Regions from separate parts of the Homo sapiens genome. Here region 2 is linked to region 1. The links come from fine-mapping of genetic effects on gene expression. Tissue or cell type: whole blood. Region 1 holds a variant in brackets; the other region holds the start of a gene. Each region is shown on its reference strand, or each on the opposite one. Region 1 overlaps LOC107986606 (a long non-coding RNA gene). Region 2 holds the start of MRPS34 (mitochondrial ribosomal protein S34).

What was found. PIP is the estimated chance that this variant, and not a neighbour inherited with it, causes the effect.
Region 2: it holds the start of MRPS34, and the variant in region 1 is fine-mapped to the expression of MRPS34 in whole blood (TOPMed, PIP above 0.99).

Annotation. Positions count from the first base shown.
Region 1 is chr6:54,766,463-54,770,847 of GRCh38, reverse strand. All of the region lies in intron 1 of LOC107986606 (a long non-coding RNA gene), which reads left to right. It also overlaps the pseudogene KRASP1. Among named protein-coding and RNA genes, the nearest start is that of FAM83B, 78 kb to the left of the region's middle. The variant T/C (reference allele first, on the strand shown) is at 2,611.
Region 2 is chr16:1,771,069-1,775,453 of GRCh38, reverse strand. MRPS34 (mitochondrial ribosomal protein S34) reads left to right here and starts at 2,320. Exons shown (of 3, transcript NM_023936.2): 1 at 2,320-2,655; 2 at 2,808-2,850; 3 at 2,941-3,559. The coding sequence starts at 2,335. The coding sequence ends at 3,233. It overlaps NME3 (NME/NM23 nucleoside diphosphate kinase 3), which reads left to right and starts at 3,911. Exons shown (of 5, transcript NM_002513.3): 1 at 3,911-3,965; 2 at 4,044-4,174; 3 at 4,283-4,384. The coding sequence starts at 3,920. It overlaps EME2 (essential meiotic structure-specific endonuclease subunit 2), which reads right to left and starts at 2,644. Exons shown (of 8, transcript NM_001257370.2): 1 at 1,980-2,644; 2 at 1,613-1,749; 3 at 1,102-1,194; 4 at 322-413; 5 at 46-139. The coding sequence starts at 2,226. RefSeq lists enhancers at 610-1,398, 2,256-2,395, 3,186-3,275 and silencers at 1,576-1,635, 1,646-1,755, 1,766-2,075, 2,106-2,205, 2,566-2,705 and 1 more.

The sequences.
Region 1 (4,385 bases):
TTTATGGCAAATACACAAAGAAAGCCCCCCCCCCCCCCCCGCCCAGTCCTCATGTACTGGTCCTCATTGCATTGTACTCTTCTTGACCTGTTGTGTCAAGAATATCCAAGAGACAGGTTTCTCCATCAATTACTACTTGCTTCCTGTAGGAATTCTCTATTGTTGGATCATATTGGTCCACAAAATGATTCTGAATTAGCTGTATCGTCAAGACACTTTTGCTTACGCCACCAGCTCCAACTACCGCAAGTTTATATTCAGTCATTTTCAGCAGGTCTGGGAGCCGCTGAGCCTCTGGCCCTGCCGCCGCCTTCAGTGCCTGCGCCACGGAGCTCCCAGTCCGAAATGGCGGAGGCCGGGAGTACTGGCCCAGCTTCATCTAAACCAGTATTTGTCTTATATACTTTACGTGAATATGCTTATTCTCAAGGTAAGGCAGTCAAAGCTCATTCCATTCCTTAGGAATTTATGATGCAGGATAATGTCAAACACTAAAGATTCATTTTATTTCAAAGAACCAGCAAATTTCAGTAGATCTTAATGTTACACAATGCACTAAATAGTAGACCATGCTTCTCCCTGGAGTCATTGTTTTCTAAATTGCAATGTAGTACCTAAAAAGCATTGCAAATAAGAATGACATTGTGAATCTTATTGAAAGTTTTAGGTCAGTTTTGTCATAATGCATTCTTCATCATCTGTCAGGTTGTTGGCATGTGAAAGGTCTCCAGAGGAAAAAGAATATGCTGCTAGAAATAGTCTCCAGTTTTCTCTTCAAATAACAACTTGGGTCAAAATCATCCTTACTAGGTCACTGTTAAACAATATTTCTGATATGTTTGACATGTTACTGTGCATTACATCAAATCAAATTTTGATCATGCTTTATAAAATTCCTGACATGTCTAATGCTATTGTATTCTCGTAGTGAGTATTTAAATGTGGCAATAAATAATGTCCCGGACCTATTTCTAATAATTTTAGTTTGCTTTAAATCTTTATCTGCTAAAATTTTTTCTCTAGATCTTGAAATTACTCCACAATTTACTAGTGACTATGATAAGTCACTTAAATACCTCATCTTTTTTATTTATTTATTTATTATGTTTTTTGAGATGGAGTCTCACTCTGTCGCCCAGGCTGGAGTGCAGTGGCGCGATCTCGGCTCATGGCAACATTCGCCTCCCAGGTTCAAGCAATTCTCCTGCCTTAGCCTTCCAAGTAGCTGGGATTACAGGAGCCCCCTGCCACGTCCGGCTAATTTTTGTATTTTTAGTAGAGGCAGGGTTTCACCATGTTGGCCAGGCTGGTCTCAACTCCTGATCTCAAATGTTCCACCCACCGTGGCCTCCCAAAGTGCTGGGATTACAGGCATGAGCCACCATGCCCGGCCAACAGCTTCCTCATCTTTAAAATGAGATACAGTAGTACCTGTATTATAGGGTTATTATGAGGATTAATTTAGTAAGTGTAAGGGTTTATGACAGTATTATTGTTGAAATATGAGGTCAAAATAAATTTGTTTCCCTGAGTAGGATGAAATGCTCCTTTAAGAGGAATCATTTAAATTTCTTACATACTTTTATTTGCACATTGCAGCAAAATACGTGCATGTTAAACTACCAGCATAACTTAATTCATGAACGCATGTATATACCTGAGGATCTTCATGGCCCCAGGAACACATTAAACTTTTCTGATACAATTTTTCTTTACTTAGAGTTTGTTTTCTTCTTCACATATTGCTTTTCATTTGTTTACATTGTACTTTCATCTATATAATATGCATTAAAAATGTAAAGATGTTTGCTTTTTCAAGTAGTCAAGTTCAACAAAGTTTTTATCATATGAAAAATTAATAGGTAAGCACTCAAACATTGATGAATAAAGATACTAAACAACAGTAGCTATAGGCAGATCACCCACCCACTACCCTCTGTTTCCAAACAGAAATAATCAACCCTTCCTCTAATTTCATGTTCTTTCTCTCAGTGGTGGAGTGTTCTAGATTGTATCAGTCTAGCTTGTTATTTTGATTTCCATCTGGAACTGGATCAGTCCTTACTCAAGCCCAGATAGATGACATCATAGAAATAAATTGTATTAGTCTGACATAATTGTTCTCTATGCAATCTTCACATTTATGGGGGAAAAGGTTAGTTTTCATTAGTGTACTAATCCAAGGCTTGCTCTCTTCCTCTATTGTAAAAAGCAGTAAATTGATACACTGTTAGTGATAGCTGTCATATGACTTACTGTAAATTATATAGCTCTTAAACTGCCCTCATTTTCTCTTTGGAGAGGCCTTATTAAATGAAAGCACCATGCTGCCGCAACTACAGTGAGGTTTCAAAAAGCCAAATCTCATCACATTGCTTGTATCCTTTAAATCCTTTGATGTTTTTCTGCTCCTTTAAGGCAAATACACAGACTTCCCTGATCTAGCATGTGCCTGCCTACCCAGCCTCATCCCATCTACCCCTGCCATTCATTCTAAACTCCATCTGGGTCAGGTGCTTAAATATTCTGGAATATGTCACATTCTTTGTGCATATTCCTGGTATCTCTTTTTACCCCCCTTGTCTTCCTGTAAATAACATAAATACCACT[T/C]TGCTAACCCTCCTAAATAAGAAAACTTTATTGATCTTTCTGGTCACAGAGCATAATTTTATTGTAGTATTTTTGTCATTGTTTACTTCATGTCTCTTTCTGCCACTGTTGTTTGGCTCCTAAAGATGGGGCTTAAGATCTTTGTCAGAGTTATTCAAATTGGCAAGTTATTTTTCTCTGTAGATTACTTCAAAGAAAAATAAGCATTTAAAAAATTTTAAAAGAAAATAAAGGCACTTGTGATTTTTTATATTTTTAATAAGACAAGGATAATAATGGGAAAATTTGAGAAAACATTAAGGTAAATTAAAATTGCTTGTAAGGTTAGTTGGGTAAATAACATTTATTGAGCACCTTCAATGTCTCAGGCATTTTACTGGATTCTTTTTATTTGTTAACTAATACAAGAGTTGTAAAGAACCTAGAAAATAATGCTCAAAGCTTGACTGTAAGATAAAAGAAAAAAACAGTTCTAGCTATTGATATCTCAAATGGGAAAATTTGTAACCATGTCATCTTTATATGCACCAGATATTCAAATAAACATAGAAAGAAACAGACTAACACGTAACTCCAGTTGATTAGTTTCCAGGACATAGGCCTAACAGTGGAGGACGGTTTATTGATTTGGTTAGAGAAACAGTAGCAATTACCTCAGTGTATATAAATTACGGGTTCCTAGATTATAATAAATTAACATGTATTGTGGTTGGGCTATTATTGAACAAATTTAGTTCAAATTAATTACATTTTTACTCCTTTTTATAAGATAGCATTATGGATCATGTGCTAAAAATCAGTAATCAGTTTTGGGTTTTATATCTTTTTGTATGAACATAAGGAAGATATAAACAGTAAATTCTTGAGTACAGTACAGATATTCTTGTCTTACAATGGGGTTATGTCTTGATAAACCCATTGGAAGTTAAAAAATATTTTAGTTGAGGAGAGGCCAAGATAGCAAATTAGAAGCAACTGCAGTCCACGGCACTCACAGAGAGGAATGAGAGGAGGTGGAACTATGTATTTAACATTTTATACATATGGACAGTATATGTGTGCATATGTACAAATATACATTTGTAGACAATATGTACAAAAGCCATGTGACAAGTTCAGGAAATTTAAAGAGAGCTGGTATGGCTAGAGTGCAGAGAGAAGGGATAGAATATTGCAAAATGAGGCCGGACATGGTGGCTCAGGCCTGTAATCGCAGCACTTTGGGAAGCCAAGGCGGGCAGATCATGAGGTCAGGAGTTTGAAACCAGCCTGATAAACATGGTGAAACCCCGTCTCTACTAAAAATGAAAAAATTAACTGGGCATGGTGGATTGCGTCTGTAATCCCAGCTCCTCAGGAGGCTGGGGCAGGAGAATTGCTTAAACCTGGGAGGTGGAGGTTCCAGTGATCCGAGATCGTGCCACTGGACTCCAGCCTGGGTGACAGACTGAGACTCCGTCTAAAAAAACAAAAAAACAAAAAAAATTGCAAGATGAGGTTGGAGAATTAGGACCTTGTATGCCAAGTCAATTTTTTTTTAATCCTAGAAGCAATGAGAGATTTCTGAAGAGTTTCAGTGAAGATGACATCATATTTGTCTTTTTAAAGATCACTCTGATTGTAGTATGTACACTGGGTTGGGGGAAGGCAGAGTGAATGAGAAAAAAATAGTTCAATGGCTACTACAATGGTCCAGGTAAGACTTGGCTGTGTTTTGGACTTTGATGGCAGTGAAAATTTTAAAAATAATAATGGGTGGATTAAAGAGATGCTTA
Region 2 (4,385 bases), not on the chromosome of region 1:
TGGGACCCAGGCCACCTGACTCACCCAGCTCAGACAGGCCCTCACCTCTTCCACCTCCGGCCAGCTGACGGCCACCTCGGCACCGGCCACCTTCGGGCTCTCTGGCTGCTGTGTCCCCCGGGAAACGTGCTGGCGAGACCTGAGCAGAGGTGACCATTCCTCCCCGCTCCCCATGGGGCCTGCCCTGCCCGAGCTTGGCCTCTGCCAGAGCCCACCTGGAGAAGTGGGATCAGCTGTGCCACAGCAACCCCAGAAGTGTGCCCACCTCCCCTGAACCCCCGTCCCAGCCAGCCCTGCTGTGGGCATGAGAGTGAGCGGTACCACAGGTAGGCATCCAGCCCGATGACAGCCAGGTGGGGCCGGGCGGTGGTCTCGGGGGAGATCCAGGGCACCCAGTGGGTTGGGCCAGAGATCTGAAGATGAGAACGTGTGGCACAGTTGTTCACAGGAGGCTGCGGCCTATGGCCATGGGCCACCAGGCCACAGCTGGTTTGCAGAACAGCAAGCCTGAAAAAGAGCCAGTGGTGCCGAGAGGAGCCTCTGTTCCGTTACCCCTTCTGAGAAAACCAGCTCTGTGCCTCCCACGAGGCCAAAGAGGCTAAGGAGACCCTGGAGTGGCTGCTCGGGCACATGTCAGTTCCATTGAGCCCCTCATCCTGGTCCACCTCTGTACTCCAGCCTAGCTTTGACCTAGCACAAAGCAGCAGCTTGAGAGACACTGATCCTGGGACACAGGGACCTGGCAGGGGGTCTAGCCTAACCCCACGCTACCTGGCACCACAGCACCTGAGCACTGCTCCCCGCAGGCAGGGGCCAGGCTGTCTGCTGTCAGAGGACGAAGCCTGCAGCCTACTGCCCGGACCCCGGCCTCCTGACACTTCTCAGGATCCTCTAGGAGCAGCTGTAGCCTCCGCAGGTGCCCAGGAGCTTTCTCCATCTCACCCTAGAAACCTCTACGGCTTTGGATCAGAGAGGAGTCCTGGCCTGCCCCATGCCCCCTCCAGCCCCGTCTACAGGGGCAGGGACCGGCGGAGCAGGCGCCTCCCGGCTGGGAACCCACCCCTCCTGATTAGAGAGGGACTACTGCCACCACCCGAGCACCTGGGTCAGTGTGGCGACGCCCTGCAGAAACTCCTCGGGCTCCAGCAGCAGCAGCAATTCCTGTTCACCTGCAGCCCACACTTCAGGAGGCAGCTGTGGGGACATGGGGACGCGCTGCTGCCTGTCTCAACCCCGGGTGCCCCAGGGGCCCTGCCTGGGCAGTCCAGCAGCAAAGCGGTTCGTGGCCCCAGCCAAGCCCAGGCCCTGACAGGCCTGCTCTACAGAAGCCCAGTGTTCCCTTTCCTGCCAAGGCCAAGCTCAGGCCAGGTCTCTGTGGCTGGCAGGAATCCAGACCACAGCCTGAATCGAGACGGAACCTTCTCCAGCCAGCTCGGCTCTATACCAGCAGAACGGCTTGGGCACCTCCACTTCCCGTTCTCCATCCTTGCTTTACCCATCCGCGAGACGCGCACGGCCCAGGGCAGCTGCCTCAGGGACAGCTCCAGGGCTGAAATCATGGAAGCAAAACAGCCAACTCGCGGCTGGCCCTCGGGAACCCGCGACCACTCACGCTGCGGGGGCAGGGGTCGGGACTCGCTCGGGTCCACCGCAGGCTGCGGGCCGGGCGCTGGGGCTCGATGCGGCACTCGCAGCCCAGGGCCTCCAGGGCCTCCATCAGGACGTCGGCACCGGCGTCTTCCAGGATGGCTGGGACCGGGGGAGAGGAGCGCGGTCACTGCTTCCTTCCACCCTCGCGAGCGCCCTACCTGGGCGGGTGGCCGGACCGGGGAGTCTCCATTCGGCACAAACCCCCGACTGGGAGGCGGGCCCGGCCCCAGGCCCCTCGGCACGCGCGCCCCGCCCAGTCGGACAGAGGGCGCCGCCTGGCGGAGAAAGGCCTTTCCTACCCCGAGTATCGCCCGTGCCCTCCGCCGCACCTGTGTCCACGCACACCGCGAGGCGCTTCAGGACCTGCTCCGGCCGCAGCAGCCGCAACGCCTCGGCAGCCGCCCTGCGCTCACCCGCTGGGTCCCGGGCTCTCGCGGCGGCCTCCGAGCCGGCGGAGTCCTCAGCGTCGGAGTCTGAGATCTCCCAGGTTGGAGGTCGCCGCTGACCGCTCCCGCCCCGTCCCCGGCCCCGGCCCTGGCAAGAGACCCCCGCCCTCCCGGGTCCAACCCGCGCCATGGCCGGACCGACCTCTTCCTCGCTTCCGGCCGCGACCGAACACTTTAGCCTGGGACACCGGCCTCTTCCGGTGACTTCCGGCCGGACCGCTGAGGACGCGGACCCGCCATGGCGCGGAAGAAGGTGCGTCCGCGGCTGATCGCGGAGCTGGCCCGCCGCGTGCGCGCCCTGCGGGAGCAACTGAACAGGCCGCGCGACTCCCAGCTCTACGCGGTGGACTACGAGACCTTGACGCGGCCGTTCTCTGGACGCCGGCTGCCGGTCCGGGCCTGGGCCGACGTGCGCCGCGAGAGCCGCCTCTTGCAGCTGCTCGGCCGCCTCCCGCTCTTCGGCCTGGGCCGCCTGGTCACGCGCAAGTCCTGGCTGTGGCAGCACGACGAGCCGTGCTACTGGCGCCTCACGCGGGTGCGGCCCGACTACACGGCGCAGGTGCGTGCACCCCGTCCGCACCCCGCCCCTGCAGCCGCCTGGTCTCCCCGCCTCCCCTCCTCCCTGCAGGTTTGCGTGGCTGAGGCTCCCACCTCCTGACCTCGGGGGCCGAGAGCTTTGCGAGCTGACCCCGCTTCCTTCTGGCTTTGCAGAACTTGGACCACGGGAAGGCCTGGGGCATCCTGACCTTCAAAGGTAAGGCTCGGGAGAGCGGGTGCCCGGCAGTTCGATGCCGACCGCCGACGGCACAGCAAGTGTGTGCAGACGCCTCTTTTTCTTCATCAGGGAAGACTGAGAGCGAGGCGCGGGAGATCGAACACGTCATGTACCATGACTGGCGGCTGGTGCCCAAGCACGAGGAGGAGGCCTTCACCGCGTTCACGCCGGCGCCGGAAGACAGCCTGGCCTCCGTGCCGTACCCGCCTCTCCTCCGGGCCATGATTATCGCAGAACGACAGAAAAATGGAGACACAAGCACCGAGGAGCCCATGCTGAATGTGCAGAGGATACGCATGGAACCCTGGGATTACCCTGCAAAACAGGAAGACAAAGGAAGGGCCAAGGGCACCCCCGTCTAGAATGCCAGAACCAGCGGGTGGCCTTAGGGGCTGTGAGGCAGTGGGGACCTTATTGATGAAAGAAACCGTCTTTGCGTTACACCCGAGTCTGCCTCTCGGAGCAGGGAGCTCACCTTCCGCGACGTGTTCTGAGGGTCTGCATCTTAGGGGGGAGGGCTGGGGCAAATCGCCACCTGTGCCTTTCCTCTGGCCCTGCTGCCCCCACACCCAACTCCGAGGGCCCACGCTGGGGAAAGCGGGAAGCGCTCGCTCCCTTTCCCCCATTAGTGCTCTCTCTGCCTGGATCCCGGCAGAAGCTATGAAAGGGAATAAAGAGAAAAGAAGTACCCAGGGTCGTGGTGTCTTTGCGCTCTGTCTTTAGGACCGGGGAGAGAAGGGCTGACGCTGTGGTCGTGGCCCTGGCCGGGGGGGCGCGGGGGGGGCGGGGTTCGGGCGGTGCGGAGCAGGGCGCCGCGTGGGTGGAACCACCTGGGCGGGTTGTGGGGGATACAGTTAGTGTCCGAGCTGCTGGAGGAGACTTGGCCTCCGCAGCTGCCCTCCGGCCCCCCACGGCTGCCGGGTTCCGGGGTGCAAGTGAAGCAGCCTCCCCGCGGAGGCCGCAGCGCCCCGACCAGGCCTCTTTAAGCGCAGGCCCCGCCCCGGGCGCCACCGCCCCGCCCCGCGGATCCCGCTCCCGCACCGCCATCATGATCTGCCTGGTGCTGACCATCTTCGCTAACCTCTTCCCCGCGGGTGAGCCGCGCGGCGCGGGCCGGGGGCGGGTGGCCGGTGCTGGGCCGGCCTGACGGCCCGTCCCCGCCTGCCCCGCAGCCTGCACCGGCGCACACGAACGCACCTTCCTGGCCGTGAAGCCGGACGGCGTGCAGCGGCGGCTGGTGGGCGAGATTGTGCGGCGCTTCGAGAGGAAGGGCTTCAAGTTGGTGGCGCTGAAGCTGGTGCAGGTGGGGGCGCGGTGAGCGAGCGGGGGCGCGGTGTGGGGGGAAGGGGAGCGGGGACCTGGGGACGCCTAGGTGCCGGGTGCGGGCGCAGGCGGCCTGACCCTTCCGCAGGCCTCCGAGGAGCTGCTGCGTGAGCACTACGCCGAGCTGCGTGAACGCCCGTTCTACGGCCGCCTTGTCAAGTATATGGCCTCCGGGCCGGTGGTGGCCATGG